Linked DNA regions of Homo sapiens: region 2 is linked to region 1. Evidence: fine-mapped expression QTL. Tissue or cell type: whole blood. Region 1 holds a variant in brackets; the other region holds the start of a gene. All regions are shown on one strand. Distances are between the middles of the regions.

Evidence for each region. PIP is the estimated chance that this variant, and not a neighbour inherited with it, causes the effect.
Region 2: it holds the start of RAB32, and the variant in region 1 is fine-mapped to the expression of RAB32 in whole blood (TOPMed, PIP 0.99).

Annotation. Positions count from the first base shown.
Region 1 is chr6:146,588,473-146,600,927 of GRCh38, forward strand. It overlaps ADGB (androglobin), which reads left to right and starts at 10,500. Exons shown (of 36, transcript NM_024694.4): 1 at 10,500-10,642. The coding sequence starts at 10,569. It overlaps ADGB-DT (ADGB divergent transcript), which reads right to left and starts at 10,459. Exons shown (of 3, transcript NR_125860.1): 1 at 10,361-10,459; 2 at 9,598-9,699; 3 at 6,044-8,032. RefSeq lists a silencer at 10,301-10,595. The variant T/C (reference allele first, on the strand shown) is at 7,641.
Region 2 is chr6:146,536,849-146,553,759 of GRCh38, forward strand. RAB32 (RAB32, member RAS oncogene family) reads left to right here and starts at 6,985. Exons shown (of 3, transcript NM_006834.5): 1 at 6,985-7,273; 2 at 12,616-12,893. The coding sequence starts at 7,024. RefSeq lists a silencer at 6,559-6,938.

The sequences.
Region 1 (12,455 bases):
AATTGCTTATGAAACCTTCTTCCTTTCGAGGACAAATTTCATTTAACAGTTGCTCTGTGTAGAGGGAGAATATTAGAGCTATGTTTTTAATAAGCTAGAGTAGTCATCTAAAGCAATAAAAGACATTTTTAAAGTATAATTTCATCTAAGCAGCAAGGATTGATTTAAAAATAATAATCACAGTGTCTTTACTTGCATGAAGAAATTAAGCCTAAATCCCTATTAATCATTTTCTGACTTGAATTTTCCCCCAGGTTCTTATAAAAATAAAAATATATTTTATAGCATTGGTAAAGTTATTTAGGGAATTTAATTTATGATGATAATCCCCAAATTTCCATCTCTAGCTCAGATCTATGCCCTGAACTCCAGGCTCATATATCCAACTACCTTCATGAGATTTCTGCTTGGGTTACTAATAGGCATCTCAAAACTAAAATGTTAAAATCTAAACTCCTCATTTTCTGCCATAGCCTATGCTCTCAAAGTCTCTCATTTAAGCAGATGGCAATTGCATTCTTTCAGTTACTCAGGCCAAAATCCTTGCTGTCACCTTGACTCTTCCTTTATCTCATTTTATCTCATACCTCACATCCAATCTATCAGCAAATCCTATTAACTATACCTTCAAAATACACCAAGAATCAGGCCAGTCCTCACCCTCCTATACTTTTCCCCAGCGTAGCCAACATTGCATTTCTCTGAATTACTGCAATAGCATTTTAACTTACTTTCTGTAGCTTCTGCCCTTCTCATCCTGAGCAGCCACCTATGTCTATTTTCAACAAATCATCCAGAAAGATCATTTTAAAGCCTAAGTTAGATCATGTCACTTCTTTGCCCCAAATTTTCTAATTGCTATCATCTGATTCAGGATAAAGGCCATGTTCCTGATAGGGGTGTATAGGATCTGCCATCCTGCTGCCTCTCTAAATTCATCTTTTACTACTTTTCCCCATGCTCTGTTTGTTCTTTTCATGAAGGCATAGTATACATCATGTACCCTCCTATCTCAAAATTTCACTTGCTACTGGCCTTGCCCAGAATGGTCTTACCTTCAGAGGTATGGGTGGCTTGGTCTCTTTCCCACTTCAAATCTTACTTCAAATCTTTCTTCAAATGTCCCATTATTAGAGTGGCCATTCCTATGCCCTTGATGCAATTAATAGCAATTTCCTCCTCAATTTTTCCATTTCCTATTTTCTCTACCCTATTTCCCTTTCCTATTTAGTATTTACCCACTTTTGACATAGTATAACAACATGCATATTATGTGTTTATTATCTTTCTCCCTGTACTAGAATGTAAGTTCACAAGAACTAGGATTTTGTCTGTTTTGAACCCTTCCAGACCCTAGAATTGGACTTTGAACATAGCAGATGTTCAATAAGTTTGTGTTAAATCAAAGAATGGATAAGTCTGTTTATTAGATGAAGCTTTCATTATCCAATGCTCTTCTTCCTCTTATAGCCTTTAACTTTAGCTCCATCTTTTCGACTCCTTGATAAAGCAAACTTATCTTAAATTAGTTGCCTTTAAATTAATGCATATTATAAAACTGTGTTTTAAACTTGGTTATGAAGCTGACAATATGCTCAAATGCAAACAGTGTAAAATGCCTAATCACATTTGAAAGCATCATTCTCTGAGAGAGCAACACATGCCTCGTGTCAAGAGGGATGACAAGGTTGGATGTCAATCCTTTTTAGCATTCCCCTTTTTAGAGGGGAAAGGATTGGCAGAATCAGAGATACTTTGATGCCTTTCTACTTTGTTTCCCAGGCTTCTGCCACTGCTCACTTCTTGCTGTTTTAATTCGGCGAAAAGCCCACCATACATATGTCCTTACACTACCCTCAAATTGTTCAGTTTCCCATAGTGATGCCCTACTCAAGACATTCCTCACCAAAGTATTCTTTAATTCTGGAAGTGCTGGTGTCTATACTAGCACTAATGAGGATCTGGAACATCATCTAGTTCATCTGACCATTCTTTTTTTTTTTCTTTTTTGAGACAAGGCCTGGCTCTGTTGCCAGGCTGGAGTGCCATGTTGCAACCATAGCTCACTGGAGCCTCCGCCTCTTGGGCTCAAGTGATCCTCCTGCTTCAGCTCCCAAAGTGCTGGAATTACAGGCATGAGCCACCATACCCAGCTTACCTGACAATTTTCTAAGTAAGGAAACTAGAACTTGGAAAGATGAAATGACTCATGCAAAGCCAGTCCAGGCCTCCACTTCCCCATTCCTGTTCATCTGTCCTGTACTGTATTTCCAATCACATTAGTTAAATACAGGAATAACCTAAAAGTCCAGTAAGAGGGCAATGGCTAAGTACATCCATGTGAGGCTTACTACACAGCTATTAAAATTTTTATCATGTAGAAAACAATTAAGTGACCTTAGTAAATGTTAACAACAATAGTTAAGTGAAAAAAGTCAAATACTCAATTTATAAAATAATTGCGTACATAATGGGAAGCCTCTGTAACATCAAAATATTGTCAGTGGTTATTTCTGGAAGTTAGGATTAGAGATTTTTTTTACTTGTGCTTATACTTGCATATTTCCAAAATCAACACTTTTATAATAAAAAAATCTAACTTTTCTTCTGCTCCATGCTCCTAATTAAATTTGTCTGCATTTTTAAACACTAGAATATATTTTTAAATGTTACTTTTTTGTATAAATAGCATGTGTGAGATATGATATTTAAATATGTGGAAAATTGAATAAGCTTCATAAATGTAAAGAATTACTAGCAATTAAGTCAAAAGACAGAATGGCATCTAACAACCTTCACAAGGTATATAAGATGAAGATTCTTTGGGGAGACTAGTATACCTTATGATAATCATGAAGCTCTATTTTTTCTTTATAATTCTCATGTTTTAAAATTATACTTCAAATTAATTTTCTATCCTTTTAAAAGTTTTTGGAATTATTTGAAATCTTTATAGATCATCTCAATACAAAATTCTGTTAGTCTCTTCTTTGCAACTTCGGTTTATGCCAAGCTATTTTTGAACCTTCATATAGACTACGTAATGGTTTCTCATATAAGAATGATTGCGTTGTCTTATGTTGTTTCATTTTTGTTTAAAATATGCATCTCAATTGTCACAATAATCAGATGAGGAATGAAGTTTATAACCATTTTTTAGATGAGTAAAATCAAGGTCAGAGAGTCTAAATAGCTTGCCTGTTATCATACATCTTACAAATAATAGAGCTAAGTTGAAACCCAAGTCTAAATGCCAGTAAACTCAATGCTACAATTAGAATCTACCTGTACACTGCCTAAATAGAATCTTCTAAATTAACTTGGTGACATATTGCATAAGTGCAAAAATGGAGAAGTTTGTCTAGTGTTCTTTCATCTGCTCTTGTACTTGTGCTGAAACCTTCAAAACATCACCTTTCACTATCTAGAACTTCTTGCTGCAGCAAGTCACCCAGGACTGCTTCATGATCCAGATCTGAAATGTCACTCCCACCCTCTCACCATGCATCTGTCTTGTGCTTATGCCCATGTGTCTAATCTCAGCTAGAGATTTCTTTCCAGTCACAATGTGCTGTATGACCCCTTCGATGTCCTTCATCAGGATTAACAGCTATTCTATGGAATTCATTGTGTCATTTTGTAAATATCAGTCCTAGTTCCTTGTAGGTTCATAACCCACAAGATTATGAGTTCTTTGGGGATAAAAACCAAATCTTAGTCATCTTTTTAGAAATACACAAGGCATAAAATTAACCTCCAGATAAACTAAACATCCAGATAAACACAATTACATTAAAGAAAAATTAATAGCTGTAACAGATGGTACAAGCATCCAAGAAGGTAGAATTCAACATGTCCTGTAGCTAATAAAAAATAGAGCAAATGAGGAAAACATGTCCTATTAGGAGGAAAGATAATTCAACTGAACCTGACCCAGAAATGACATAGATGTTAGTTAATAGACAAGAACAAGAAATCGGTTATTATAACTATATCTCTTATTTTTAGAGTGGCAACAGCCATCCAGTTTCTTAATCCTTATAATTACTATTTCTCAAAACCTCTCAAAGGCCTGAGATATTGTATCTGTTGGTGCATTCTCTTCTACTATTATCTTGTTGTAATTTACCACAGGTCAAAGTTTAACAGTTGCACTGCAATCCTGCACTAATGAGGAACTCATTACCTGTTGGTCAGCTCCAAAGCTGACCCATTTTACAATGTTTGCTTTAACTGTGGCTTTAATCCATTTGGTTGTGATGCCCCTGGTGTAGTTTTATCATGTTTATTCTGCTTGAAGTTCATTAAGTTTTTTTGATCTATGGATTTATAGTTTTTATGCAATTTGGAAAATTTCCATCATTTTTTCATGTAATTTTTTTCTGTATTCACTGTGCCATCTCTGACCCCAGCCCTCACCGTTCAGGGACTCCAGCTAATCTTTATTAGACAATTTGAAGTTGTTCCACAGTATCCAAATGCTCTATTCATTTGTTCAACAGTTTTTTTCTCTATATTTCACTTGGGACAATCGCTATTGATGTGTCTTCAAATTGGCTAATCTGTTTTTCTGCAATGTGTAATCTGTTGTTAGTTTCATACTGTGTATTTTTCTTTTCTTTTCTTTTCTTTTTTTTCTTTTTGGAGACAAAGTCTCGCTCTTGTCCCCCAGGCTGGAGTGGAGTGCGATGGCACGATCTCAGCTCACTGCAACCTCCGCCTCTCAGGTTCACTTGATTCTCGTGCCTCAGCCTCCTGCGTAGCTGAGATTACAGGCACCTGCCACCATGCCCAGCTATTTTTTTTTTTTTTTTAGTAGAGACGGGGTTTCACCATGTTGACTAGGCTGGTCTCGAACTCCTGACCTCAGATGATCCAACCACCTTGGCTTCCCAAAGTGCTGGGATTACAGGTGTGAGCCACCGCGCCCGGCCACAGTGTATTTTCAATGTAGACATTGTACTTTGCATTTTTAGAAGTTCCTAAAATGAACTTATCATATTCTTTCTTTTAGTTCTTGAACATATGGAGTTCAGTTTTAATAACTGTTTTAATGTCCTCTCTAATAATTCTCTTATTTTTTTCTGAGTTACCTTCAATTAGTTGATATTTTTCTTTTAATGAGACATATTTTTCTTATTCTTTCAGACCTGTTAATTTTTATTGGATATTAGTTATTGAGAATTTTACTTTGTTGGTAAGTAAACAAGGTAAAATTCTTGTTTACTCGGATATTTTTGTATTCCTAAAAAATATTCTTAAGATTTTTTTCTGTGATGCTGTTATTTGGAAATAGTTTGATATTTTCAGATCCTGCTTTTCAGATGTGTTGGTTGAGACTAGTGGAGCATTTCGTCTAGAATGAATTGTTCACTCTCAAGGGCAAAACTCTCTTTGTATTCCAGTCCATACCCTGTGAATTATGAGTTTTTTTCCAATCAGGCAGATGGTAATAGGCACCATTCCCAGCCTACCGTAAGCTCAAAGAAGGTCGCTCCTTCTAAACTTGTTAGGTGGTTTTTTCCCCTGGCCTCAGGGAATTTCCTCACATGAAGGAACAGATAAGCGGTCATGAATACTGAGTCCTCCTCTCTGAAGATCTCTCCTCTGTGCAGTTCTGTCCTCTCCATACTCTGTCTGTGCAACTTCTACTTTCTGGCACTCCATTCTGTGAACGCTGGCTGCCCAGTCTCCCTGGACCTCAGCTCTGTCTCTCCCAATCAGGGCCACCATCAGGCTCTGCCTAGGTTCCCCTTTTCTGTGCCACAACCTAGCAGTAAGATGGGACAATTAAAAGGCTCAGTTTTTTTGGTTTCCATCTCCCAGGTATCACTCTCTTTTATTGTCTGACAGTCAATATCCTCATATATTTTCTTTAGTTTATTAATTATTTCATGAGAGAAGGTAAATTCTCTGTTACTTCATCTTGCTTGGAAGTGGAAGTCTTCCCAAATCCCATTTTAGAGTCTGCTTCCTAGGATCATCCCTATTACTAACACTGTTCCAAGCTAGTTCCCAGGAACCAGGCTCTGGTGCTCTGAGATTTGCATGCATGAGGTTTATTAGTGAGTATTCTCAATAACATCTGTAGGGGAAGCAGGATTGGGGAGAAGGAGAAGTTAAACTGCAACGCAGTTGTAACAGAAGCCTTCATGGGTCATAAGGGAAGTTCTGGAGAGAGAAGCACCTTTCAGAGTTGCCCCATTTATATCCCCTTCTTACATAAACTAGTGGGACACATGTAGCTCTCAGTGCAAGTATACAACAAAGGGTGAGTGTCTCTGTCCAGAAGGGGAAACAGAACCACCCATCTGCTGCACAGATAATTGCAGCATTGTACAAAATAGGTTTGTTTGCATCCTGATGAAGCATTTAGTTACAGTTAGTCATTGCTTCTTCTTGAAGCAGCTTATCAAAATGGAAATTGTTTTTCAACTAATAACTTATTTCCATATCCCCCATTTTTTAAAGAACCTCTATTCAGAATTTCCTTTCACAGGTCATTAAAACTATAAATTCAATTTTTCCCAGAATAACGGGGCTTTCTGTGGCAGGGCCAGCAGGTTTCATATCTGCAGGATCCAACTTCTCCTTAACAGGTGTAGAGACTGAATATTACTGGACACAACTGAATGTCAGTTGTGATTTTTAATACCATTTCCAATGATCTGAAGTAAATATGTTTTGAACTCTGAAGTAGGCAGTGTGTATGTAGCAGAGAGTTTAGGAGCCTGCACTCTGAAACCAAAGTGTTCACCTATGCATTTTGACTCCATTCCCCCTGTGCTTTGGACTTTGGGCAAGTTGCTTTGCCTTTCTAAAGCTCATTTTCTTCGCTATAAAATGGGCAGAGTTTCATACTTCATAGGGTTGTGATCACTGAAGGTGTCAGAGGCAGAATAATGTGGTTATAAAGAGCATGGGTCTAGAGCCATGAGTTTGAATCATGCCTGATCACTTACTAACTTAATTTAGCCACTCTTTGCCTATGTTCCTATTTATAAAAGAGAGATTATAATAGCAAATCCCTAGGGTGTTTGTAAGGATTAAGTGAATTAATACAGAAAAATAGCTTAGAAGAGGGTCAAGCACATAGCAAGTGCTCAACAAATGTAAGCTCTTATTATTAAGGGTTTAGGAGCTTCAAAAGTGTGAATGAATTTGGTAGAAGAGGAGTTTTTGCTTTGAGTGACCCTACAGTCTAGTAAAGGAGAAAAAACAAGGCATAAGTATTAATAAAAACAAGACAGAATATTATAGGAATTTTAAAAGATGAACAAATAAAGTTCTGTGGGAAATAAAGGAGAAGGGTGTAAATTTCCATGGAAATGTGAAAAGAACAGAACTTGAAGTGACAGTTAAATTCAACCTTACACAGAACATGTAGAATGCATACTTTCTCATTTGGCTGGTTAAATTCCAAGTAATTTTATAATTGACCTAATTGCAAAGAGGTAGCTGAGCAGCAAAATATATACAATTCCCTATGGCTGTGGAATCAAGTGTCTGAAGATGGAGTTATGGATTTAAGAAACAGAAATGCTGCCACTCTGCCCACCCCTGCCATCTCCCACCCAGTTCCCTCCATCTAGGATTCCCATTGGTGGAGGGAGAAGTGGTTGCCAATTCTCACTTCCCTA[T/C]TTAGGCAGATCCTCAAGCAGAGAGACTCCTGCCTGTTTTGTTTCTGCTGATATGGGGAAGTGGGTACCTCTAACCACTTCCCTAGGGAGCAGGCGCTACTGCTGCCTGAAGCCAAATATCTCTTCCCCGAAAAGGAAGTATAGATTAGAGAGAGGCCCTATTCTGGGTAGCTTGAATAAAATATAAGCCCTGTTTCTCAGTCTTTGACAGTTGTTAAATAGCAAGAGTTTGGAAATCCCTAAGCTCAGTCCCAGGGCAATCATCTGTATGGACAGTTAGTCCAGAGAATTGGAGAGAGCACAGGTTATGGAGTGGCCAATCTTCCTCTGCCACCTACCACCTGCTCCATGTCAGGCAAGTCCCATTTCCTGTCTGCATTTCAGTTCTTTACCTGTGGAATAATAACATTAGCTATAATTCTCTGAATGCTTGGGATGAGTCAAGCATATTTGAGGTATTATTCTTCCCTTTCCACAAATAAAGAAAATGGAAGTTAAATAACTCACCCATAATTACCCAACAAGAGTCAGGATTTAAATTCAAGTTTATCTCTAAAGGAGTTAGCACCCTTCCCTAAACCTTGCATGTAGTAGGTACTCAATAAATCACAGCTATTATTATTATTATTCCAAAGTGACATTGACAACAGTTATAAGAAAAATAAAAACAGCAGTAGGACCTATTGTCTTTTTTGCACTGCCACAATAAATATCATGTTAAGCTTTGTAGCTAGAACTATCTTAGAGAGGAACAGATTTGCTCTTATAATTACAGCCTGACCAGAACCTTAGCTCCAGAAAGAAGAGAAATTCCATTTATGCATGTTGCACTCTTAATATAATAAAGGAGAAAGAACACTGGCGTAGGAATTAATAGGCAACTTATACTCGTCACATCTTTTATGATTATCTTATTCCATTCTGGTGACAACCCCCTTACTTTATCCTAATTTAATAGATGTTTAAAAAGCAAGCTCTGAGTGGAGTAGTGATATGTTTGGCTTAAACTGGCAATGCTGACTTTAATGTGTTTAGTCCAAATTCCATCAATAAATAACCCAGCAACTTTTGGCAAGACATTTTGCTTGTCTTCGCCTGGAGTTATTTGTCCATAAAATACCGGTGGGATGTAGATCTTTTGATTTCTAAGGCTTATCTTCCCTAATTCTTTTGGCATCTTGCAGCCATTAACAATGGCTGCAGGATAGCCCTTGTTCAAGAAGAAACTCACCTCTCTGTGGGGTTGGCTGCTTAAAGTTGTGCTGTTTTCAGCCAAGAGTCTTTGTATATACTTATAGCTATAAATTTGATTACTCTGACAAAATTTGGTAGTAAATAATTTTTCTCACCATTTAGTCCTCTACTTTCATTCAAGAGAGTTCTCTGGAAATTTGAATTATGGTATAAACAAAGCAGAATCTTCATGATGTGTTCATTGTCTTTACATATATAGGAGATGTTTGCAGGGCAGTCTTGTAGTCATAATATTAACACTGCTGACTTGGAATTTATTTATTTTGCATATAGAAATACAACGAAGGGGCTGTCTGTCATCTAGGTAACCCCCAGTAGTAATCCAATAGTAATAAGATTGGGATAGTCTGACAAACCATAGGCTATGCTGAGTGGAGAGCCCTGAGCATTCATTTGTCAGAGAAGTTGAAAGATTTTCTCTGCAGGAAGCTGCCTCTTGCCTGCACAGGTGGAACTGTGAGCATGTGCCCAGTCCCATGAGTGGAGGGGATTTCTTTTATTTAAAGATACTTAACTATTTCTAGGCTCATGAAAGACACCAACCAGTAGTAGTGGTCCTAGGCCTAAGGGCTGTGTGTCAGATATCTCTGAAGTGAGGTTATATTGAACCAACACAATATTTTGTTTTGTTTTGATAAATTTGCAAGCTCTTGCAGTCTAAGCATGTCTCAGTTAAGCATAGTATCCACTACTCTGTATTTACCTGGCCAACTTCATTCATTCACGCTGTCTGCTGCTCCTCGAAACCAGGTGGTCTGTCATCTCTGAAAGAGTGGCTCCTATTTGCTGCGCTTTGCATCTTATCCTCAAAACAGAACTGTGAGTTAGGTATAACTCCTATTTATAAGTGAGTAATAGGCATCTCCTATTTATAAGTGAGTAAACTGAGACTCAAAGGGAAAAACTAGCCCAAGGCAAGATAACTAACAAATCACCACTGATGACTGAGCCTTAAGCCTGCGCCCTAATAAGTTTCATTTTACTTGGTTCTGTCTGTGTCATCTGGCCCCTGGACCTTTTCTGGAAAGTCTGCAAAGGACCACCTGAGCCCATGACTTGGACTCACTCTTTCATTCGAACAACAAGACACCTTATTGGTTTTATTACAGATATCATCACCTAGCCCTCAGCGACTCAAGGTGTCATTATTTTGCCTTCCTTACACCCACTGTGTTAATTTCTGGACCCCAGGTTTTCAAGCCATTGACAATTTCAGCGTGTCTGTAATGTCTCCTTAGTAATTATTGAAGGTACTTGTTATATTTAGCCAAGAGAATAACTGGGGTGGTACTAGGATAACATCTACGTTCAAATAGTTGGATATTCAAGAGTCGATATATGTCTATGGTTCCGAAGGGCAAAGCCAGGCAGTGTAGGTCCTGCAGAACTCCAATTAATCAGGGCTGCCCAGTAATCCTAATGCCAAACCCGTGCCCCAGAACCTCGATTTCTCCCCAGACACCAACTCCAAGTTCCTCCACGGGGATGTGGGATTTCAGTTTATGCTCTTGCGTCCCTCTGCAGCCACAGGCCGCAGAGCCCGCCCCCAGGGCCCCGCCCCCGCTCTCCGGGCGCTGGACGCGGGACGCCGTCTCCTGGCAACGCAGACGCGGAGCCGAGCGCGCCCGCAGGCTCTTTGCTCAGAGCTCAGCCCTACATAGATCGGCTTCTGCCATGGCCTCCAAACAAACCAAAAAGAAAGAGGTGCATCGTATCAACTCGGCGCACGGATCGGATAAATCGAAAGAGTAAGGGACCTCTGCCTGTCCGTCCCTCCCCTGGCCTAGCCCCTCGACCTCACCACTAGTTCTGGGGCTGCCTCCCTGCAGCAAACTGTGCCAGGGCAGAAGTTTAGTGGCCTCCTCGCAGCTTGTCTTCTCTGGTAAACCAGATCCTGGAGGTGCTCGCTCTCATCCTTCTCTCTTGCTTGTCTTGACTCACTTCCTTTCCCAGAGCCCCTGATTTTCTTGCTTTGGGTGTTCAGCTCCCATGGGTGAATCTGCCACCCCTCCTCTTCTTCATAGCCCTCTCAGGCAGTTAGAAAGGCCATAGCTTTCCTAAGAAAGAGGCATATCTCAAATACTTCTGGTTAAAGCCACATCTTCATGGCCCCGGAAATGATACAGACAGCGAGTGACAGACAGACATGGACACATTTCACCTTAATGGTGATTTTCTAGTTTGCATCTGCCCAGTCCAACGACTACGATCTTTAATCAGATATAGTCAGACGTAAAGTGGCTTCTAAACCTTAAAACATTATAAATGTATAGTTCATGTTACTAACATTTACTCTGAGAAAGTAAACAGACCCTCGCTCATGGAATTTTTATGGTGCCTTTGTCCTGGGCTGGTGTTAGGTGTTGTGTCTTAGGATGTACTTCCCCATGATTATTATTTTCTGTGGTCTGTTTCCCTAGGGATATCCAGTTATCCACAGCATAGGATTGGGGCTGTTTGAACTTACACCATTTCTAATGTTCATTCCCACTGTGAGAGAATCCCAGCTGCCCGCCCTGCTTCAGTGGGATCATTCATGTTCTTCATGCTCTGCCTGATGGGGAGGGCGATGCAATCAATCATTTCAAATTGAATTCTTACATCCTTGATGCCTGTTTCTCCATTTCCTTCCCTGGCTGAAGAATTCCACATTGGACTGATCCCTATGATTCACTGATCCCTAGGATTTAAACTCTTTTTCTTTGTGAATTCTTCTCCCAGACTCATTCCCATGTCTGTGAATCTCTAGTCCCTTAGTTCTAACCTCTCTCATAAGCAGGTTTCCAGTTACCCGGCAGATAATCCATTCCTTTTACTAGCTTAAATTTTAGATATTACATATATAAGTAATATTACATATATAATTTTATATAAATATTACATATGTAATTTTAATAGGATTGCTTTACTTCTGTGTACCAAAGTCAGGTCTTTTCAGCGTTGTCTAATGGCTTCCATTCCTCTAGGTCCAAGGCCGAGGACGCCCTTCAGAATCAGGCCTGTATTACTTCTCTAAAGTTACCTTCCACTAGCCTTCTCTCCACTCCCTGAGTCATCTCAGGATTGTTCCCACCGCAGGGCCTTTGCACTTGCTGTTTCCCCTATTGGAAAGCTTTTCTGCTCAAATATCCATATGGTTTTCCCTCTCCCTTCCTTCAGGAGTTTACCTAAATGTCATTTTCTCCTGTTAGCTTCTTTGGCCACCTGATTTAAAGTTACAACCTCTACTTCTCTGCCAAAATAAAACAAAACAAAACAAAGCTCCCTGTCTTCCTTCACTGTTTTATTTTTTTATTGACTTTTATTTTTTTGCTCATTTAACATGCTATATATTTCACTTTTTAAAAACTACATTTTTTTTTTTCATTTGTCTTCCCAATAGGGAAGGCAGGGATTTTCCTTTTCTATTTTACATACTGTTGAATTCTTAGTACTTAGATAGTTCCAAGATCATACATAGTAGGCACTCAAAAGTGTTTAGTGAATGAATGAATGACTCTCTTAACTAGGAGATATTAAAGGATTGCAAAAGAATTTTGAGTACACCCCTCCCCCATGCGC
Region 2 (16,911 bases), 49 kb before region 1:
TATAAAACCCACAAAACCCACAGTGACAGGAAAATATCAAAGAGACATTGGAGCCAACTGAAAGAGCTTCCAATGGCGAAAGCTGGAACAATATGAGCAACAAAATAAAGTTATATTGGGGTGTAAGCTGAAGCAGAAAAGAAGTATCAATGAGTTCATACTAGCATCAGTAAATGTTTGGATATATAAATGAATAGGGGAGGAGATCTAAATCTACTATGCAGAATTCAAAACATCTTGTGAGAGATTATCTTTCATAGAGAGAGAGTATTAACCCAGCTACTTAAATATTGGCTGCGGACAGTATTCTAAAGAAAACAATATGGAAAAGGGGAAAACAAGTGACTTTACAGTGCAGAAATCTGACAAACATTACCTTAGTCAAGCAATCAAGATTAACATCAATAATGACAAGTCATATTGATGGCATGTACCTTTCATGTAATTCATGGAGAATGGCACTTTACCTGTGTGGTCTTTCTCCCCAAACCTCGAAGTTCTAGTATAATTTGGAGGAAAGCATCGGATCATCCCCACTGAGGCACATTCTACAGAATACCTAGCCTGTACTCTGAGAACTGCTGCAACCAAAAAGAACCTAAGGAGACATGTTGGCTAAGAGTAATGATTATCCTGAATGGGACACTGGAACAGTAAAAGGTCAGTAGATCAAAACTAAGGAAATCTGAATAAAGCATAGACTTTCGTTAATGGTATAAATATCAGTTCATTAATTATAACAAATTTTCCATACTAATTTAAGATGTCAACAACAGGGGAAACTAGATGTTAAGTACATAGGAACTCTCTGTACTATCCTTGCAACTTTTCTGTAAACCTAACACAATTTTAAAATGATAATTTGATTAAAATAAATTAATGGTGATATGTTGAAATTTTTACCTCTAAAACTAGCATCTCCAGTGTCTCCATTTTTATTCAAAATTATATTAGTAGCCCTAGCCAGTGAAATAAGTTATGAGAAAGGAATAAAATAAGGATAGAAAAGTTTTTTTTAAAATAATGTATACATAGAAAATGTAATTCTATAAATAAACCTTTAGAATTATCAGCGTCATTGAATCAATTCATTATACACAAATTAATTTAATTTTAATTTTACATACCAGCTACAGAAATTTTAAGACGTCTCAAAATTATTGAAATATAATAAGACCTACATAAATGATAGATATACCATGTCAATATTTTTGAAGACTTGATGTTGTATAATTTCCAATTCTTCTCAAAGTGATCTATAGATTCAATGTAATGACAACAAAAGTCCCAGCAGGTGTGTTTCTGAAAATTGAGATGCTGAGACTAAAATTGTATCGAAATATAAAGGAACCAGAATGGTTAAGGGAAACTTGAAGAATTACAGAATGAGAGAATTTGATTTACCAGAAAAGACTTATACCATAGTTACAATCACTAAATAAGAATTGGTACAAGTAAAGACCACAGACTAATGAAGGCAAGAGACAGCAGAAACAGATCCATTCTTACAGGACTACTTGAATTACGACAAAGGTGGCACGTTGGAGGAATAGAAAAAAGATGGGCTTTTCAGTGAATCGTCCTGAGTCAATAGTCCTGAGTCAATCAGTTGTCCCTCTGGGAACCAAATGAAACCTGACGTTTGCTTTTCGTATTTCCTTTGGGGTAGGCCTGCTGGTTAGTGTGGTTTATATTTATCATTCAACGATTATCGTTAAATACCATTTTCCTATTTTATTTTTCATGAACCGTATAACTATCTCAAATTATCTCATTTATTTGATTGCTTTTAAATTATTTTTCCTGTTCCCACTACAATATAAAGTCCCTGAGAACAAGAATTTATCTATGCTGCTAAACATTGTAGCTAAAATATCTAAAATATTTCAAGGTATAATTATAAGCTTTTGAATAAATAAATGAATATACAAATCTGCCAGGAAAATGAGGAGTGAAAATAACATAATCCTTTGATCTAGCGCAGGAAGGATGAGGACAGTTTATTTGAGAGCCTGGGATGGGGTAATGGTTTGGAACATTCTAGATAAAAGGCATAGCAAATGCTGAAACATAATAAATGTGTAGGGGAACATCACAGGGTGACTTTCTGAGTGGGCTATTTTTTTATGTAGTAAATGGAAATGTCTGTTTAAAATAAAGGCAGTCGTATTTATTCAGTGACAAGTCTCAGATTACCTGTATTATGTTCTCTTTATTTCATGTGTGGAAAGAAAACTTGTTTTCCTCTAAAATGTCAGTTCAGGATTCTAACACTTATCCATTCTCCCCCAACCTTCTCCAGTTCAGGGCTGTACACGCAGATATTGTCCAACACTTACTTACAGTACTTGGTATTATGTATGTCTGGTTTCTTTAGTGTGTGCATCATGCTTATCTAGGTTTGTTTGTGTTTTAATACAGATTCCTGGGATCCCCTTCTAAAACATTAAAACAGAAGGTCGGGGCTAATTAACTAGCTAGCTCCCTAGGTAAGTCAGATACACAGCAAATGTGGGAACTACTGAATTCTAATCTGAACCCGTGTGTATTAGTCAGGGTTCTCTAGAGGGACAGGACTAATAGGATAGATGTATATATAAAGGGGAGTTTATTAAGGAGTATTCATTCACAAGATCACAAGGTGAAGTCCCACAGTAGGCCATCTGCAAGATGAAGAACAAGGAAGCCAGTCTGAGTCCTTGAACCTCAAAAGTAGGGAAGCCAACAGTGCAGCTGCCAATCTGTGGCTGAAGGCCTAAGAGCCCCTGGCAAACCACTGGTGTAAGTCCAAGAGTCCAAAAGCTGAAGAACTTGGAGTCTGATGTTCAAGGGCAGGAAGTATCCAGCACAGGAGAAAGATGAACACTGGAAGACTAGTCCGTCCACATTCCTCTGCCTGCTTTAATTCTAGCCACACTGGCAGCTGAATAGATGGTGCCCACCAAGGTTGAGGGTGGGTCTTCCTCTCCCAGTCCACTGACACAAGTGTTAATCTCCTTTGGCAACACCCTCACAGACACACCCATGAACAATACTTTGCATCCTTCAATCCAATCAAGTTGACATTAAATATTAACCATCACACCTTGCTAACAAAAGTGTGGTCTACCAACAGCATTGACATCACCTAGAAACTTGTTAGAAATTTTGAATTTCAGGTTCCATCCCAGATATGCTGAATCAGAATTTAAACTTTTCTAAGATCCTACATAATTTATGTGAACTTTAATAATTGTATTGTAGTAAGAACACAACATAAAATTTACTTTCTTAAATGTTTAAGTGTGCAAGACTATTGTTAACTGTAGGCACAATGTGGTGCAGCAGATCTCTAGAACTTATTCATCTTGCATAATTGAAATTAGCAATTTCCCTTTTCTCCCTGACTCCAGACCCTGAAAACCACCATTCTCCTTCCTGATTTTCTGAGTTTGGCTATTTTAGATACCTTATATAAGTGGATTCATGCAGAATTCTTCCTATTGTGACTGGCTTATTTCACTCGGCATAACGTCTTTGAGGTTCATCCATGTTGTTGCATATTGTGGAAATTCCTTATTTTTAAGGTGGAATAATATTCCATTATATAAGGATGGCTATTATATTTTTTAAAAGACAACAAGTGTTGGTAGAGATGCAGAGAAAATTGAACGCTTGTATACTGGTGATGAGAATGCAAAATGGTGCAGCCACTATAGAAAATAATATGGAGATTTCTCAAAAAATTAAAAATGGAACCACCATATGATCCAGCAATCCCACTTCCAGGTATTTCTCCAAAAGAATGAAAATCAGAATCTTGAAGAGATATTAGCACCCAAATGTTCAATACAGCACAATTGACAATAGTCAAAGTGTGGAAGCAATCTCAATATCTACGGAAGGATAAATGGATTTAAAAAAAAGTGGTATGTATTACTAGATACATAAGAACTTTTAAGTTCGAGAAGCAAATTCTGATCCAAACCACTGTGCTCCTAGACACTTAGCAGCAACATCTCCTGGGAACTTGTTAGAAATGCAAATTATTTGCCTCACCCTAGATCTGAATCAGAACCCCTCTGTTTTAACAAACCCAGAACTCTCAAGTTTGAAAACCACTCATCTAAACTCTTATCCTGTCTTTGAATCGTTGATCCACAACTTTATCCTGCCTTTAGCAGTGACCTTTTCTAATTTTAAGCACCACCACAATTCTACCTCTAAAGTCAGTGGAAATTCAGCAGGGCTAGAGAAGGACGAATAAAAAAAAACATCTATGGTATTACATACGTACGGAACAAAATGCTGCACTTTGTCCAAAAATTGGAGGATTTCCTTTTTTTCCCAAACTGTACATGGGTTTGGAAGGGCTCTCTAATTGGGTGAACATAAAAGCCATGTACTGGTTGGCTGTACTTCCACATCTGTGGTTTTTCAATAGCTATTCTAGAAAAAGGTTTTACTCCCACCTTGACTTCTAAATTTTAAAACGCCTCCATCTCTGAAAAACACTTTTCAATAATTGTCAATTAGAGTGAGGATAGTAGGGTAAGCAGCTGCTTTAGTTTATTTAAGGAAGCTGCCAGATGATGTCAGCTCCAGGTGTTTCTAAATATTAAGGTGATGGGGTGCATCCCTCAACTTTATAGATAGAGAAAGCAAGGGGCTGTCCCCCATGTTTCTTCTTTAAAATAAAAACCCACAAGTCTACTACTTTCCAATCAATTTCCTATGATTTATCTTAGAGCATTTACATCTAATCCAAACACTACCAGATGAAGGTTGAAAAAGGATTGTTAGGGAAGTAAAGTAAGATGGCTTCAGAGTCCCTGTGTCTTCTTTCTCAAACTCCTTCCATAATTTAAATGCTAAAGCATGATAAGGTTTTTAATAGACTATTTTGTTGTGTGTGTGTGTATATATATATATATCTATATCTAAGGTATACGGCATGATGCTTTGATATACATAGTGAAATAGTTACTAGAGTTAAGCAAATTAACAAATTAACATGTCCATCATCTCACATAGTTACACAATTTTTTCTTTTCATTTTTTCTTTTCTTTTTTTTTTTTTTTTTTTTTGAGATGGTCTCACTCTGTCGCCCAGGTGGAATACAGTGGTGCGATTAAGCTCACTGAAGCCTGGACCTCCCAGGCTCAGGTAGTCGTCCCACCTCAGTCTTCTGGGTAGCTGGGACTACAGGTGGGTGCCACCACACCTGGCTGCAATTTTTTTTTAATGGTAACAGCACTTACAGTCTACTCTCTTAGCAAATTTCCAGTTTAAAATACAATATTATTAACTATAACGCTCATGCTACATTAGATCATTAGGACTCATTCATCCTATATAACTGCAACTTTGTACACTTTGACCTGCATCATTCCGTTTCTTCCCTGCCCCTGGTAACCACCACTGTTTCCACGTATTCCGTGTGTGTGTGTGTGTGTGTGTGTGTGTTTAAGATTCCACATATAAGTGATATTGCACAGTATCTTTCTTTTTGTGTCTGGCTTATTTCGCTTAGCATAATGTCCTCCAGGTTTATCCATGTTGTTGCAAATGTCAGGATCGCCTTCTAAAGGCTGAATGATATTCCATTGTGTGTGTGTGTGCGTCTGTGTATATGCGCGCGTGCATGCCTATGTATGTATTACAATTTCTTTATCCATTCATCGTTAACAGACACTTTGGTTGTTTCCAAATCTTCGCAACTGTGAATAATGCTGCATGAACTTGAGAGCGATTTCTGAGATCCTGATTTCATTTCCTTTGAGTATACACCCAGAAGAGGGATAGCTGGGTCACTGGCTTTAGCAACGATTTTTGCAATATCACACCAAAAGCCCAGGCAACCAAAGCAAACCTAGATAAATGGGACTTCATCCAACTAAAATGCTTCTGCACCGCATAGGAAATAATCAACAAAATGAAAAAACAGCCTATAGATTGGGAGAAAATATTTGTGAGCCATATATCTGATAAGGGGTTAATATCCAAAATACATTACGTTCACAGAACTCAGCCAAAATAAATAAATAAAACACCCAGTTAACTAACGGGCAAAGGATGTGAATGGACTTTTTTTTTTTTTCCAGAGGAAGTACAAATTGCCAACAGGTATAAGAAAAGGCGCTCAAAATCACTAATGAACAGGGAAAAGCCACTAGGTATCTCCTCACACCTGCTAGGATGACTGTTATAAAAAAGATAAGCGATAATAAGTGTCGGTGATGTGCGGAGCAAAGGGAACCTTGTACACTGGTGGTGGGAATGCGGACTGGAACAGCCATTATGGAAAACCCTACGGAGGTTCACTCAAAAAGTTAAAAACAGAACTACCAGCCCAGTGTTATCCGTCCTTCGTTAAGTTCAAAGTCACGGTGCCACTTCCTTTCCCATCTAAAGGGGACTGCTCGCGACCCAAGCCAAGGCCCGCAAGTGTGGCTCTCCCTGCGGGGAGAGTAGGGCAGGAGGTGGATTTCCAGGCCAGAGGCTTCCAGGCTGGGCCCGGACCCCACGCCGACCCCGGCCCCGGGGGGGGCTCAGCGACCTCGGCGCCTCCTCAGGCCCCCAGTGAACCTCCGGGGCCCATAAAGGCTCCAGGCCGGCTCCCCGGAGGCCCACCAGCGGGCGTCTGGGCCTCCCTCCGCGCCGCGACCGCCAGGAGGCGCCGCCCGGGAGAGGAAGTCCAGCTGGGCCCGGCCGGGCTTCGGAGGCGCCGCCCGGGAGAGGAAGTCCAGTTGGGCCCGGCCGGGCTTCAGAGGCGCAGGGCGGGAGCCGCCTCGCGCAGGGTCCTCCCCAAGCCGGCGCCAGGCCCTGCCCTCGTCCGGCCCTGCCCTCGTCTGGCCCCGCCCGGGCCGCGAGCACTGGCGGGTTCTGGGTCCTGTGACCGGTCAGGCGGCGTCAGCGGGCGCGGCGGAGGGCTGGCCGGCCTCGGGGGAGTTTCCGCGGCCGCCGGGGGCGCGGCGGCAGAGCGCGAGGCCGGGCAGGGGGCCAGACTCGGAGTCGAGGCGCGCCCGACAGCCGCAGCGCTCATGGCGGGCGGAGGAGCCGGGGACCCCGGCCTGGGGGCGGCCGCCGCCCCAGCGCCCGAGACCCGCGAGCACCTCTTCAAGGTGCTGGTGATCGGCGAGCTTGGCGTGGGCAAGACCAGCATCATCAAGCGCTACGTCCACCAGCTCTTCTCCCAGCACTACCGGGCCACCATCGGGGTGGACTTCGCCCTCAAGGTCCTCAACTGGGACAGCAGGACTCTGGTGCGCCTGCAGCTGTGGGACATCGCGGGTAAGCGCGGCCGCGAGTTTCCCACTCCAGAGCCCCGCCGGGCCGCCTGGCTCCTCTCTGCTTCTTTTCTTTTTCTTTTCTGCCTGAACTCGTCTGCCTGGGTACCTTTAGGAGAAGAGAGAGGCCCAATCCAAGGGCGAGATGCGATGGACGCGGTCGGCTGGACTCGGTGGGGCCCAGAGGATGGGATGGGCAGTAGGAGTTGGAGCAGGTCCTGCACGCCAGAGCTCGCTCTCCTGAAGGGAGGCGAGGAGGCCAGGGGGCCTTTTCCAGAAGTTTGAACTCTGAATAATGCAAGTATATCATACATACACCAGGACTAGTTGAGAAGGCTGCTTTGGAGCGGGCCGGCGCCTCTCAGCCTCAACTCAAGTTCAGAGGGATTGGGTGACTTAACCCGAAGCTGCACTCCTAGTTAGTGACACCACCAAGACCAAAAGCCAGGTTCCTTTCCAGATCATTTTCCACCACCCGCCTTGGCTCTGAGACTGGCCTTTGTGAGGGAAACTCCATTCCTCAAATACTTTGCTCTCATCGGAAGCCGAGGACAGACACTCCGTGAAGATTTGGGAAAGCTTTTCTGAAACCTTACACTCACCCCTTCCTCTCTTGCTAAACCAACACCTAGTCCCATCCCTGGTGCCCTCGCCCCCCCCCGCCCCCCCCCCACTCCTCAATACAGTGTTTCTCTGCCATTTGCTTTCATTTGTTCTGTTTGAGGGGGTACATTTCCCTCTGCTCTGATTTATGAACACTTGAACTTTGCCTGGTGTGGTGGTTGGGAGTGGGCGTTTTAAAGATGATGTTAACTATTGGAAAGTTCATAGAAATGGTACCAAGCCAAGTGCCAGTGGCTCACGCCTGTAATCCCAGCACTTTGGAAGGCCTAGACTGGAGGATCGCATGAGCACAGGAGTTCGAGACCAGCCTGGGCTGTTAGTGAGACCCTGTCTCTACAAAATACATACATACATATATACATACATACATACAAAAAATTAGACAAGTGTGGTCGTGCGTGCCTGTAGTCCCAGCTACTCAGGAGCCTGAGGCAGGAGGATCACTTGACCCTAGGAGAGGTCAAGGCTTCAGTGAGCTGTGTTCTCACTGCTGTACTCCAGCCTGGTCAACAGAGTGAGACCCTATCTCAGAAAAAAAAAAAAAAAGTACGAAAATTACTCTGTTCAATCATTACAGGTGTTAAGAAGCACAGTCTGCAGTACAGCATTAGAATGGGAGCTGGTTTAGGGTTAGAGGACACCTGAGGCCACCCTTCATTCTACAGTCCCTACACTGAAGCCCATGGAGGGTATAGCTACCTGGCTGGTAGCAGAGTGGTTGGGGGGATCACAGGTCTACTGTCTGTCTGCCAGGTAGTGCTCTTGTCATTTATAGCTTGTTACATAAGAAAGAGTAGTAAATAATTGTAACCTATAACTCATTCATTTAAGAGCACATTTCTGTCCCTCAGACAGGAGAATAACTGTATGCAACTCAGTTGCTCAGAAAAAAGGAGTAATCAGCCAGGGACTCAGCTTTTTGTTGTTGTTTTTTGTTACCAAAAACCAAAAGTTCGTTTGAAAAGTCATCTTTGAAGCCAGAAGTTTTTTCGAAACACTTCCTGCCGTTGCACAGAACCCTAATGAGCAGTATTTCTGCTTCTTGACAAAGTCATGGATTCTAAAGGTTGCCTTACCATGTGACGGTCATTCTCCAGGAATCTGCAGCATAGCTGAGGTTTTTCACAAAGATGGTTTTAAAACCTTGCTTACAAGGGTGATTGACCTTGCCTTACTCTTTATGTAAATTATGGCATTTTGTTATTAAACTACGATTGGGTCCCACTGCTGGTAAATCAGTATGAGTAACTAGATTTTTAAGTGTTTATAGTTAGAAACTTGAGAAAGTAAAAGCAGGAGTAAGATACAAATTTTCTTTCTGGTATCACCTCTTCTTTTTTTATTAATCACAGACCTCGAATGACAGGAAGGGGTCATATCTAGTTTTTTATCAGACTCTGATAAACATCTGCCTAGATGGGATATCCTTGTACTTTTCACTAAATCCAAAGCTTGAGTTTTGCCAGGAAGGAAAACAAAAGTTTAAGATCTCCAAAAGGGATTTCTGGATGTTAGATATTGTTTCAACAGGTATTGTTGTCCCATACAGCAAGTACAGACCAGCAATTTACAAAATTAGAGGTAAATTTATAGAAATTATTAGGCTCACATTATAAGTAAGATTTTCAGAGATAGAATTTTAATATCTCTGAATATGAGGGAGAAAAATAGCTTAGTGAGAGACCAAAAACAAAAAAAAAACAAAAAAAACTGTTTTAGAGACCAAAAAAAGCAAAACAAAACAAAAAATCCTTAGCCTAAAGTTTGGAGAGCTACATTACTAACTGTTTGATTTGAATATTTGAGCTACTAGTGAATCTCAGCTCATACCATTTGAATTAAGTAATGATGATGTAATGAAGGCAAACTGATGGCTGCTCCACAAACTTCCCCCAGGGCTAAGCATACTTGCCTTATGTAGTAACAAAGTTGGATCATATTTAATTCTCAAATAATAGAAATATTCTTTGATTGCACAATAGTAGATAGAGCCAGCTACTTGCCATAACTAAGTTAAGGTGTGGTGTTTTTACTAGTTAGGTTTTTTTTTTTTTTTTTTTTTTGGTTGCTTCAGTGAGAGGGCGAGGTAGTGAAGAAATTATGACGAATCTCTATGCTTGAAAGCTGTGGCAAGTATGATAGGCTAGAATTATCAAATGTTTTCTACACATGTAGCTAAGCAGATTCAGCTGAACTCTTCAGGTTAAGAACCACTGTGATCCTCAGATACACAAATCTGTTCTTACGGCATTGAAGGAATCTGGCTTTAAAATACAGATGCAGTTTAGTGCAGTTTTTGTGTTAGACAATTGCCATCTCTTAACTCACACGTACTTTAGGACTGCTGCTCAAAACATAACTGAAATATACTAAAATCTTGAAGTCTTTGATAACACTTTACAGAGATCTTAATAAATGCATACTCAAGATATAGCAAGAGATGTCTCTGATCTTCCTTTTAATGCTCAGTGTAGGTAAAGTAGTATTTGGTTTACTATTATATGCTTATTGCTTATTAGTCACTATAGCATTTTTCAGGCAAATTGAAAGACTGGTCTAGGTTAAATCTTAAAAAAACAAGTTTGTCCATTTAGGTCTAGTATACTTTAGCCTTCATGTATTGACTGAGTGATTTGCTTTTTAGGATCAACATTTTTTAATAAAAATCTGAATGAGTAACTCTCCTTTGGGCCAAAGGACAAATTGGGAACAGTCTGCTCTGAAGTTCATATAAATAATATTTACCCAAGCATAAAATGTGTGCTTGGAAGATATAAACTATATAATTTATGCCTAAACTTATTTTACATTGTTTTGATTCCCATCCAAAATAGAATGTGGATCCTGATTGCCTTGCTGCATCTTATACTTTGTCGATTAGTATACCTAGTAATATCCCTTTGTCTTTTTTTTCACAACTCTCCTATCATCTTTCATGAGCACGAGTAAAAGGAAATACTTGAAATTTACAGATGATTCACAAAAAAAAAAAAAAAAAAGCAACAGTCACTAAAGTTTAACAACTCTTTGTTAACTTCTAGGTTTCTAACTGTTCTTTTACTCATTTGTCACCCCACTCTCTTTTCTAAATTAAAGATATAGTCCAAAGGAATAGTTTATTACCATGTAATTATCTTGAAATCTTACTTTTTCAATTTCCTAATTTAAGACTGTCATATCTTGTTGCTTAGTCTTTTCATATTCAATAATTAAAATATATAAAAATGGAAGTGGTTGGTAATGTGTGCACTGCATTTGAAATTGGAGTCTGAATCATTTCAATGCATATAGTCTTTCTGCAGAATAGCGATTTTGAACAGTTGGCATATCATGTAAGTTTTTATAAATGTCAGCATTATGAGCCAATGAACTATATAATGGTCAGATTTACATCACAATAAAATATGAGCATAATAGTAGGGTTTCATATGTGACCATTTGTTACAGTAAAATTTAGACCTTTGGACTATTACAGTACAGCTTCAGTTAAACCATATGAGGAGTCATCACAAAACAAACCTTAAATTTATGCATTCACGTTTGACCATTGTTTTATTCTTCTTCCATTATTCCCTAAAACAATATATAAAATTATATTGCATTGTAGAGTTTGGAGAAGGAAGAATTTTATATTTTGGGGTATCTTTGCATCTGTGCAGAGAAAATGTGTCAATAAAATGTAGATAAAGCCTGTTGCTCATGTGTTTCAAGAAGAAAGTGTCTTTATCATAGAACAGAGTGATACATCTTAGATGTGCATTGATTGCCAATCATTTTTCCTTCACACTGTAGTCAGTAACTAAGTCAAGGCAACTGCAAGATAGTTCAGAAAGGCTAGCATCCCACTTCTATAGGTGTGTGGGAGTCAGAAGACCTGGATTCTAGTCCTGTCTTCTTTAGTCAGTGCCACTATAATCCTGGCCAAGCATCCATTTTCCTGTTGTTACATCTGTCAGATGAAAAGAAGGGTCTTTCCTATGCCAAAGATTAGTACAATAGCAGATAGTAAGAGAACGCTTTGCAAAGTCCTATATAATGTACAAAGCAGATTTTTCCCAAAGTGTTTGACATAAATTATTTTAAAAGTACAATGACATTTGAAGAACCCTGGAATTGATTCTTCTTGTAACAACACAACCAGTTGTGCCTTTTGTTCTGAAACAGATTTTCATGTATCTACTACTTACAGGGGTGAAATCTTGCATATTGAGTCAGAAGTGGGTATGGGCTAGAGATATGAAGGAGAGATGAGTTGAGAACATGAACTACTTTATCTCATGTCCAGCCCTAATCTATTTGACTAGCATGTTACCCACTGCACTTATCTCCTTCCTGCAGGCTTCATTTCTTCTATTCTTGTCTCTTCTTCCTCTACTTCCAGCTTTATGTTTTCCTTTAGTGCCTCTCTTCTCTTAGACTAAGGGGAGACGAGTCGGAATAAATGACAGACTTTGTAGCTTTAAATATTGTCATATTGGTTTTTATGGAGAATATGTTGTACAGAACATAAAACTAATTCATTATGTACTTAAACCAAATTATCAGACACATCTGCTCTATGGGTCATGGTCTGTATGGATAGCCTTAATCACACCAGGTTATATTGCTGTGGAATGGAAGACATTTGTTCATAGTGTTGCTCTTGGGGTAAAAGGGGTTATACCTAAATGTAGACTCTGTCTGAATTACAAGTTTTTAATTTTTTCTTATATTTATGTCTAGGGCAGGAGCGATTTGGCAACATGACCCGAGTATACTACAAGGAAGCTGTTGGTGCTTTTGTAGTCTTTGATATATCAAGAAGTTCCACATTTGAGGCAGTCTTAAAATGGAAAAGTGATCTGGATAGTAAAGTTCATCTTCCAAATGGCAGCCCTATCCCTGCTGTCCTCTTGGCTAACAAATGTGACCAGAACAAGGACAGTAGCCAGAGTCCTTCCCAGGTGGACCAATTCTGCAAAGAACATGGCTTTGCCGGATGGTTTGAAACCTCTGCAAAGGTGAGATCTGCTTTGCTTATGCATCTTTTGCTTTCTAGCTCATAATTCTGAGCTGTAAATGTAAAGTATTTAGATATATTTATGTGAGTGGTGTTTGAAAGTCTGGAAAATGAGAAGTGTAGCATGGATGTGTTATAGCTTCTTTCAGTCCACAACAGGACTGCTTTCCAAATTGGCTAATGGCTAATAGAAGGGCAGATTTTCCATCAAAACAAAAAGAATTATTTAGGGCAAAAAGCAAATGACATTTTCTGTGAGTTTGAGTTTTTAACTGAGGTACTTCTCATGCAACTAGAGTGGTTGGGGGTATTGTCAAGCACGAGAATTTTTGGTTTTTACAAAAGGCTAAGTGAATAGGAAGATGCCTCTGGTGAAGATGTGTGTCACATGCAGGACCATGTGAAAAGATCAGAGAGGAGATTTATTCAGATGATGTTTGAAGAGTTTTAGGTTAACTGTGTACGAAAGATTTGAAACAGCCAGAAAGTATCAACATTTGTGGTATGCTTCATAAACAGTAGAGTGAGAATTTTTTCTTTTGTCTATTATGGAAAGCTGAATAAAATATTTTCTGAAGGAAAAAATAAAACACTCAGTTGACTTTCAAAAATCTTAACAGTCTAGTGACCAGGCACGGTGGCTCATGCCTGTAATCCTAGCAGTCTGGGAGGCCGAGGCAGATGGATCGGGCAGATCGCTTGAACTGGGAGTTCGAGACCAGCCTGGGCAACGTGGCGAAACCCTGTCTCTGCCAAAAATACACAAAGTAGCTGAGCATGGTGGTGCATGCCTGTGGTCCTAGCTTCTCGGGAGGCTAAGGCAGGAGGATCACTTGAGTCTGGGAGGCAGAGGTTGCAGTGAGCCGAGATCATGCCACTGCACTCCAGCCTGGGTGACAAAGTGAGACCCCATCTCAAAAAAAAAAAAATCTTAATAGTCTAGATATAGAAAAAAGGTGAAAATTATACATATATAAAATGTTTGGGGGGGGGGTTACGTGCATTGGAACTTTCACATAAGGGGGTTAGTGACAATCAGATTTATGTAAGAATGATGAAATGTTTGAAAAATTCTGTGATGACAGATAAACATTATACCATAAATTTGTTGAAATCATAACACAGTTCTAGCTTTTAGTTTATGTTCTGTGGATTTCTTGTGTGTGTTTACGGGTGTTTTTATATATGTATGTATGTATGATTGTTCCTCCAAATCACCCACCTCATTCTGGATATTTACTAATCAGATTAGGTTTAGCTCTACTAGAAACTTACCCTTAGAGTGAAAAACTACTTGATGCCAATGATGATCTGCGGGATAAAAGCGAAGCAATGAGAGACTGCACAAAAGGAGACCGCTCCAAAAATATTGCGCAATGATGGAGTCACTGGGAAAAAAAAGACTGTCTACTGCAGGCAGAAATGTACACTCCTAAGCTAGAGGCTAATTGTTTGAATAAATATAGCATCTTAAAATTTCCTTTCATAAATAAAACATAGTGATAGAAGAAAGATGAAGCCCAGGAGTGCTATGTGAGCACTTAATCTGACACGAAGGAGAAAATCACAGAAAGAAAGCCTTCTTATAGAGAAGTCACCTCATTCTCCCAAGAAGCTAGGACCACAGGCATGTGCCACCATGCCCAGCTACTTTTTGCATTTTTAGTAGAGACAGAATTTTGCCGTGTTGCCCAGGCTGGACTCAAACTCCTGAGCTGGAGTGATCTGCCTGCCTCAGCCTCCCAAAGCACTAGGATTACAGGCGTGTTCTTCTGGACACTCATGCCCTCTGTCTGCTCTGTATGCCTATTGGGTGATTTGCTCTACTTGCCAGCTTTGCTGTAAAAAGACGAAAAAAAAAAAAGGGGCAGTAAGTATAACTGCTTATGCGAGTGTGCATTTTGGTGGAGGAGTTTTATAAATGATAGACAAAATTCCCCTTTAGGCTCTATTTAATCTTTCAGATAGTAAATCCAGATTTGCCCCCAGATGTAAGACGTCATGTGACTAGTAGCTTGTGACTGTGTAAGTCATCGGTTTCACTTTATGTATGGATAGGATTACACGCAGAGGTGAAAGGTGAAACGCTGGTTAAGAGTACAAGTTTCAAGTTTGCTCTGTGCTTCCATACAAATATAATAGAAGCAGCTTCTGTAGAATTTCCTTAGCAGTAAACCAGACGTGTTCCAAGAGAATAACAGTAATAAAAAAATTTAGGTTAAAAATCTTAGAGTTAAGGCTTAAAGTACTGCCTAAATGTCACTAAGGTACACTTCTGAGCTGGCCTGCAGCTAACTTCAGATCTGACTTTTGCTTGAATTGCAGTCATCCGAATTTCACTAGGAACATAGGCAAAAGATAACTTTTGCAAATAAATTTCATCATTTCACCTTTATGGCAAATAATGGATTTCTAATATGAAACTTTAATAATATTAACATATGGGAATTACATTAACATGTGACTAGTTACACTATCATTGGAATTTTAACCAACTGCTTCCAAATACAGTTAGAGAATTTTATAATTATTTGATATAATGGGGATAGCTGGGACTGAATGTCACTTGGACATTCAAAAGATCAATACTTGAATTAAAGTTAACACTTATCTTGGGAGTGGAGGTAAAAAATAAATAAAAAGCTTGTTTCAGTGCTATGAAAGATGCCTGTAAATAGCACAGCTGTTTTAGGTTTCTTGTTGTCTGAGAAAGGGTTTACAAATAAGGAAAAAGGCTACAATGAACCTCATAGCATTGGATTGGATTAGACATTAATATGAGCTTCAGGTTTCATATGTGTGTGTGTGTAAGAGTATATGCATATATATATGTGAGTGTGTATAGATATATGTATGTACACACACATATGTGTAAACAGATAAAGAAGTTGATACAGATGCATGTGTGTATACATACGTTTATTTACTAGCCATACCTGCTGAGAGGGCTTAAAAGGAATGACACCACAGAACCAATTAACTTACCTCGTGCTCAAAATTCGGTTTTTAAATATCATTCTCCAGTAAAAAGAATGGGAATCTCTAGAGAAATGCCTGATTTTAGGACGGGTGGAACAAGTCAAGTAAAGATGTGCCTGAGATATTTTGTTGTGCAAGAAACTAAGGAAATGCTTACAAAATGATGGGGACATGTGACAAAGATACAGGATACTGCCATACAAGCTCCAAACATGTAAGACAATTTGAGCAACAAACTAAATAATTACTGTAATGGGTTCAACTTATAGAGTAAACTAATAATCCATGATAAAAATGAACAAATGAATAAAGAAATGGGGGAGAAGGGAACCTCTTTCTTTTTTTATTTTTATTTTTTTATTATACTTTTAAGTTTTAGGGTACATGTGCACAACGTGCAGGTTAGTCACGTATGTATACATGTGTGGAACCTCTTTCTAACAGTAGAATTCCAGCTAATAAATGTAGAAGGAATGGCAGAAATAAAAAAGTCACCATTAAACACCACAGTGATGATTGTTGTAGGGAGGAATTAATTGATGATAACATTAGTGGGGAAAAGTGCGGTGAGAAACAGGATATTTACATATTTGCACTAAGTACAAAGGGAAAAATAATAACTTTTCTGTGGAGAAACATGGCAAAAACAACTTGAAGCAGTGTGCTTCCTGATAAACTGTGCAGGGTACATCACTTGTGTTTTATTTCTGCCAAAAATACATACGTTGAATTTAATGATAAGGAAACATCGAACATCACAGATGGAGGTATATTCACCGGCCAGTGCTCTCTGAGAGTGTCAAGGTCATGAAAAGCAAGGAGAGTGAGGAACTGTTCGAGAGTAAAAGAGACCAGGGCGACAACAGTGAAATATAGCTTATGATCCTGGATCTGAAATAGGGCATTGAGATAATTGATGCAATTTGAGTAAGCTTTTTAGGCTAGCACTGATACAACACTATTATGTAATTTCCTGATTTTGATAGTTGTATTCTGGTTATCTAAGATGTTAACATTTGAGAAATATGTGTGAATGGTAG